Linked DNA regions of Homo sapiens. The protein of the gene in region 1 interacts with the protein of each later gene in a pairwise test. Each region holds a gene or a part of one and is shown on either strand. Other genes may lie near its edges.

Evidence for each region.
Region 2: the proteins of AHCTF1 (region 1) and NUP160 interact in a two-hybrid assay, tested with the Homo sapiens proteins (one study listed by BioGRID).

The regions. Positions count from the first base shown.
Region 1 is NC_000001.11:246,858,883-246,862,712, reverse strand, and holds part of AHCTF1 (protein ELYS), read left to right. Parts: intron 1-559; coding exon 560-754; intron 755-1,417; coding exon 1,418-1,814; intron 1,815-3,830. UniProt on the Homo sapiens protein: Required for the assembly of a functional nuclear pore complex (NPC) on the surface of chromosomes as nuclei form at the end of mitosis. May initiate NPC assembly by binding to chromatin and recruiting the Nup107-160 subcomplex of the NPC.
Region 2 is NC_000011.10:47,779,777-47,782,472, reverse strand, and holds part of NUP160 (nuclear pore complex protein Nup160), read left to right. Parts: intron 1-2,025; coding exon 2,026-2,130; intron 2,131-2,696. UniProt on the Homo sapiens protein: Functions as a component of the nuclear pore complex (NPC). Involved in poly(A)+ RNA transport.

The DNA.
Region 1 (3,830 bases):
GCACTTTTTTAGTTGAATTTAAGTTGGAAATAATGCTTTTAGAAAGATGGATGCAGTTTTATGTTTCGTAGACTTACGTATAAAAAGCTCTGGAAGAATTTTGTATTTTCTTTGCAGAAATCTGGAATAAATATTTCTATTGATATGTTTATTGGAGATGAGATGAGAATATAACCACTATTGTGACTCAGTTGACCCCATCTGTTTTTATATAAGCACTTTTTTTTTTTTTTGAGACGGAGTCTTGCTCTGTCGCCCAGGCTGGAGTGCAGTGGCGCAATCTCGGCTCACTGCAAGCTCCACCTCCCGGGTTCATGCCATTCTCCTGCCTCAGCCTCCCAAGTAGCTGGGACTACAGGCGCCCGCCACCCCGCCTGCCTAATTTTTTGTATTTTTAGTAGAGACGGGGTTTCACCGTGTTAGCCAGGATGGTCTCGATCTCCTGACCTGGTGATCCGCCTGCCTCTGCCTCCCAAAGTGCAGGGATTACAGGCGTGAGCCACCGCGCCCGGCCTATAAGCACTTTTAATGGTGTAATTCCATTTGCTCTTTACTATAGAAAGCTAAAAGTTTGGCCATGTCAGTTACTACTTCTGGATTTTCTGAGTTCACTCCTCAGTCCATCCTGAGGTCTACTCTTCGATCAACACCTTTAGCATCTCCCTCTCCATCACCTGGAAGGTCTCCTCAACGACTTAAAGAAACTAGAATTTCATTTGTGGAAGAAGATGTCCACCCAAAATGGATTCCTGGGGTAAGTTTGATAATAATTGGGAGAAAAGACATTTTTTAATAAGAATGTATTAGCTCTGACAAGTAAAAAGTTAGATAAATCAAGTTTTTAAATACCACTATAGATTTTTGTATATAATCTTGTAGCTAGTAATGAAATAAGAAAAGGTTAGTTCTGAAAGAAACACTAGGGCCATTGGCTAAGCCAAACCCATCATCTTACAGATAAATAGGACTCGGAAGCACCAAGTAAGTTGGCTGTAGTCAGCTAGATGTATGGTGGTAGAATTGGGAGTAGGATTCAAACCTCCTAATTTTTAGTCCTTCTTTTATCTTTGTTTTTACCTTATATTGTGTTGTTTCTAACTAGTTATATGTTTTTGAGGGTGTGTCTTGAGGTCCACTGTAGGTTAATAGGAACCTTTCAGTGATTATTGGTCATCTAGCCTGTTCTGTGTTGTAGTCTTCTGAAAATACTGGTATATTACCAATTAGGGAAACATTAGCCACCATTAACTTTTACGTACTAGAAGAGAATGGATTTAGAATAAATGAATTTTTATTAAGGAGAGAATTTGGGTAAAAACAACAAAGAAAGTATGGGTATGATTGGGATGGGTAGCTTAGGACTAGACTTAACTGTGATATTTACTAATTTTTTTCTTTTCAAAATCTTACTTTACAGGCTGCAGATGATAGCAAATTAGAAGTATTTACTACACCTAAAAAATGTGCAGTTCCAGTGGAAACTGAATGGCTGAAGAGCAAAGATAGGACCACATCTTTTTTCCTGAACAGCCCTGAAAAGGAGCATCAAGAAATGGATGAGGGGTCACAAAGTTTAGAGAAACTGGATGTGAGCAAAGGAAACAGCAGTGTTTCAATCACATCCGATGAGACTACCTTAGAGTATCAGGATGCACCGTCACCGGAAGACCTTGAAGAGACTGTTTTCACGGCCTCTAAGCCCAAAAGCTCTTCCACTGCACTAACTACTAATGTAACTGAACAAACTGAAAAGGATGGAGATAAAGATGTATTTGCATCAGAAGTAACTCCTTCAGACCTACAGAAACAAATGGGTAAGAACTCATTTCTGAATACTCAAAATTGTTATTAATGTCCCTCAATAAAGTTTATAATAGAATTTTTTCCACCATAAGAAAAGCATCCTAGCCAGGTACTGTGGCTCATGCTAGTTAATCTCAGCACTTTGGGAGGCTGAGGCTGGAGGATTGCTTGAGCCCAGGAGTTCAAGACCAGCCTGGTCAACATAGCGAGGCCCTGTCTTTACAAAATAGAAATTTAAAAATTAGCCAGGCATGGTGGGAGTGTTCAGAAGTTTGAAACCTCAGTGAGTCATGATTGCACCACTGTACTTTAGCCTGCGTGACAGAGCAAGACCCTATCTCAGAAGGAAAGCATGAGAGTTAAATATTATATGCTCACAGTATACTAGTTCCTAGACATAATGCACAGACCTTACTCCTTCAGCTTAGAAAGTGTGGCTTACATTGTTTCATGAGTAGGTACGAGATTTCAGAGGAGAACTTATGTGTTACATTTTTTATTTGGCCGTGAAATTTAGAAAAGAATAGTAACATTTAAGGAAAGAAATGTAAGATGCCATAGTCTGACTTGAAAGTCCTTCCAGTAGCTATGAGAAATAACTTTACAGAACAAATTATTGCAATTTTTATTTATTTAATTTTTGAGACAGAGTCTCACTCTGTTGCCCAGGCTGGAGTGCAGTGGCGTGATCTCGGCTCACTGCAACCTCCGCCCCCCCCCCAACCAGGTTCAAGCAGTTCTTCTGCCTCAGCCTCCAGAGTAGCTGGGACTATAGTCGCCCCCCACCATGACTGGCTAATTTTTGTATTTTTAGTAGAGACGGGGTTTCACCATATTGGCCAGGCTGGTCTCGAACTCCTGACCTCGTGATCTGCCTGCCTCGGACTCCCAGAGTGCTGGGATTACAGGCGTGAGCCACCGCGCCCTGCCAAATTATTGCAATTTTTAACTTATCCACCAGTTTTAAGTTTCTATAATTCTCAGAAATTAAGAATTTCATTCTACTCTCTGTCCTCACCTCCAAAATAATCACTGGACAATGAAAATAAATGTTCAGGCTGGGTAAAGTGGCTCACGCCTGTAATACCAGCACTTCGGGAGCCCAGGAGTTCGAGACCAGCCTAGACAACATAGGGAGACCCCATCTCTACAAAAAATATAAAAAAATTAGCTGGGCACGATAGCATGCACTTGTATTCCTAGCTACTCAGGACACTGAGAGGGGAGGATCGCTTGGACCCAGGAGGTCGAGGTTGGGGATGCAGTGAGCCGTGATTGCGCCACTGAACTCCAGCCCAGGCAAGAGAATGAGACCCTGTCTCAAAAAGAAAAAAAATATTATTTTAGTGATCAAAAAATGTTTTGAGTTCCTGAAGTATGTATTCCTGTTAGCTCCTACTGTGTTTATTCTAGGTGTTGAAGATCAAACAGTGAGTCAAGTAGAAATGGCACCTGCTCCCATGTCACACAGAGCATGGTGGACTATACTGACAAACACTTAGAATCCAGTTTGGTTAACAAGAGGGCCAGGGGAACACTAGTAAATGGGAGAGACTTCACCTAGAATTGGTGGGTCAGAAAACTGAACCTATTTGTATGTTTCTTACCCTACACACGTTTTTAACAAGGTTATTTAAAGGTAACTCCTAACTCTAAAGCTGTAAAACTACATACTTACATAAAAATCTGCATCTTAAGTAGTTTAAGATGAGAGTCCACTGAAGTTTGGACTACGATATCTTTACTTAGTAAGCATGGGCATTATTAATTACTCTAAGAACTTTAGGACCATGCCCATAAATAGCATATGTCTAGAAATTTACACTGCCTTACTTATTTGAGACAGAGTCTTGCTCTGTCGCCCAGGATGGAGTACAGTGGGGCTATTTCAGCTCCTGCAACCTCTTCTCTTGCCTCAGCCTCCCAAGTAGCTGGATTACAGGCATGCGCCACCGGTCCTGGCCTACATTGCTCTTTTGATGTGCCTTGTTCTACTAACATGTTTAAATGGTAGCTGTTAAAAGAAT
Region 2 (2,696 bases), on another chromosome or scaffold:
GATGTTCATTAGGTTAGATGTATTATATGTATTTTCAACCTATGATATTTTCAACTGATAGTGGGTTTATTGGAAAACAAACCCACCATAAGTTGAGGAACATCGGTATAGGCGCATATATATATATATATATATATATATATATATATATATATATATATATATATATTTTTTTTTTTTTTTAACTGAGTTTTGCTCTGTTGCCCAAGCTGGAGTGCAGTGATGCAGCCTCCACTTACTCCCTCACTGCAGCCTCCGCCTCCCGGGTTCAAGTGATTCTCCTGCCTCAGCCTCCTGAGTAGCTGGGATTACAGGCACCTGCCACCACATCCAGCTAATTTTTTAATATTTTTGGTAGAGATGGGGCTTCACCATGTTGGCCAGGCTGGTCTCGGAACTCCTAACCTCAAGTGATCCACCCACCTCGGCCTCCCAAAGTGCTGGGATTACCCATGTGAGCCACCATGCCCGGCCTAGGCATTTCTTTTTATTATCATGCTATGTAAGGTGAGAATCTGAGAGTAAATTGAACTATATGTTAGTGTATTTAACCTTTACTATCTGTAGTTATACAACTAAATATTGACACTCTAGGAATCTCTAGTCTCCTGTTTATAAAATAGGAATTTCATCTTTCTCTATCAAAATAATATGGCATTAGTTAGGATTCAGTGGAGAGAGATAAACAAAATGGTATTGTGTGTGTGCCGGGACTGTGTTAAGTCTCTACAAGCATTTTTTTATTTAATCCTTATAGCAGCCTTATGAAGGAATGTTTTAATTTTCTATTTTTTAACCCATGAGGGAACAGGCTCAGAGGTTATCACAGGCTCATACAGATGGCAAATATAATAGAAGAGCCAGGTCTAAATAGGTGTAGTTAACTACAGCTTCAACCCTCATGAAATCAGCCAGGTGCAATAGCTCACACCTGTAATCCTAGCACTTTCGGAGGTCAAGGTGTGAGGATCGTTTAAACCCAGAGGTTAAGACCAGCCTTGGCAACATAGTGAGAACCTTTATCTACAAAAAATAGAAAAAAATTAGCTGGTCATGGTGGTGCGTGCCTATAGTCCCAGCTATGTGGGAAGCTGAGGTGGGAGGATCACATGAGCCCTGGAGGTTGAGGGTACAGTGAGCTATGATCATGCCACTACACTCCAGCCTGAGTGACAGAGTGAGACCCTGTCTGAAAAAAAAAAGAAAGTTGACATGAAATTATTTTTTATTTTTATTTTTTTATTTTTTCCAAGACGGAGTCTCGCTCTGTCGCCCAGGCTTGAGTGCAGTGGCATGATCTCGGCTCACTGTAACCTCCGCCTCCCGGGTTCAAGCAATTCTTCAGCCTCAGCCTCCCGAGCAGCTGGGACTACATCTGTGCCACCACACCTGGCTAATTTTTGTATTTTTAGTAGAGACGGGGTTTCACCATATTGGCCAGGCTGGTCTCGAACTCCTGACCTTGTGATCCGCCCACCTCGGCCTCCCAAAACGTTGGAATTACAGGCCCAGCCGACATGAATTTTTAAATATATTTAACCGAAAAAAATGACAAGTTTCCCAGTTGGAGAAAAGAGGGTTCCCATTGTGTGCATGCACATGTATACACACAGTTTCTTGTGGTTGGGGGAAAAAATGCATTTTATTTTGCCGGGCACAGTGGCTCACTTTCGGAGGCCAAGGCAGGTGGATCACTTGAGGCCAGGAGTTTGAGACCAGCCTGTCCAACATGGTGAAACCCCATCTCTACTAAAAATAAACATAAAAAAATTAGCTAGGCATGGTGGTGCACATCTGTAGTCCAGCTACTCAAGAGGCTGAGGCACAAGAATTGCTTGAGCCCAGGAGGCGGAGGTTGCAGTGAGCTGAGATTGTGCCACTGCACTCAGCCTGGGCGACAGAACAAGACCATCTCAAAAAAAAAAAAAAAAAGGGTATTTTATTCTACAGAGTCCTATGAAAGCAACTACCCAGAAGAAATGGTACACTTTGCAGACTGTTTTCAAATAAACATTTTCCTTTTAGTTTCCACTGTCCGCAACAGCCCCAATGGTGTGGCTTCCATACTCCTCTATTGATCAGCTTCTCCAAGCTCTGGGAGAGAACAGTGCCAACAGTCACAACATCGCAGTAAGTCAGCCCTTTCATGAGACGTCTTGTGTAAGCCCCTGCACTAGCAGTTACACCTTACAGCTTGATCTTCAGTTCTCCGGGATTAGAAAGGGAAGACAAAAGCCTATTTTTGGCCCTTAACAAACTGCCCAGTCCCTTTATAGATAAGGCAGAGGATCTAAGTAACAGGATCAAGAAAACATAATGAGGAACTGTGTAAGTGTTAATTATACAGAGACAAATGGCAAGCAGTCGGTCCATCCTTTAAAGCTTTTAATTTGGTAGGGCAGACCCTACAAGGTAAACAGGTACTTGAAATACAGCAATGATAGGCCGGGCGCAGTGGCTCACGCCTATAATCCCAGCACTTTGGAAGGCTGAGACGGGCAGATTACCTGAGAGGTCAGGAGTTCGAGATCAGCTTTGCCAACATGGTGAAATTCCATCTCTACTAAATATACCAAAACTAGCCAGGCATGGTGGCGGGCACCTGTAATCCCAGCTACTCGGGAGGCTGAGGCAGGAGAATCGCTTGAACCCAGGAGGCGGAGGTTCCAGTGAGCCAAGATTGCACCACCGCACTC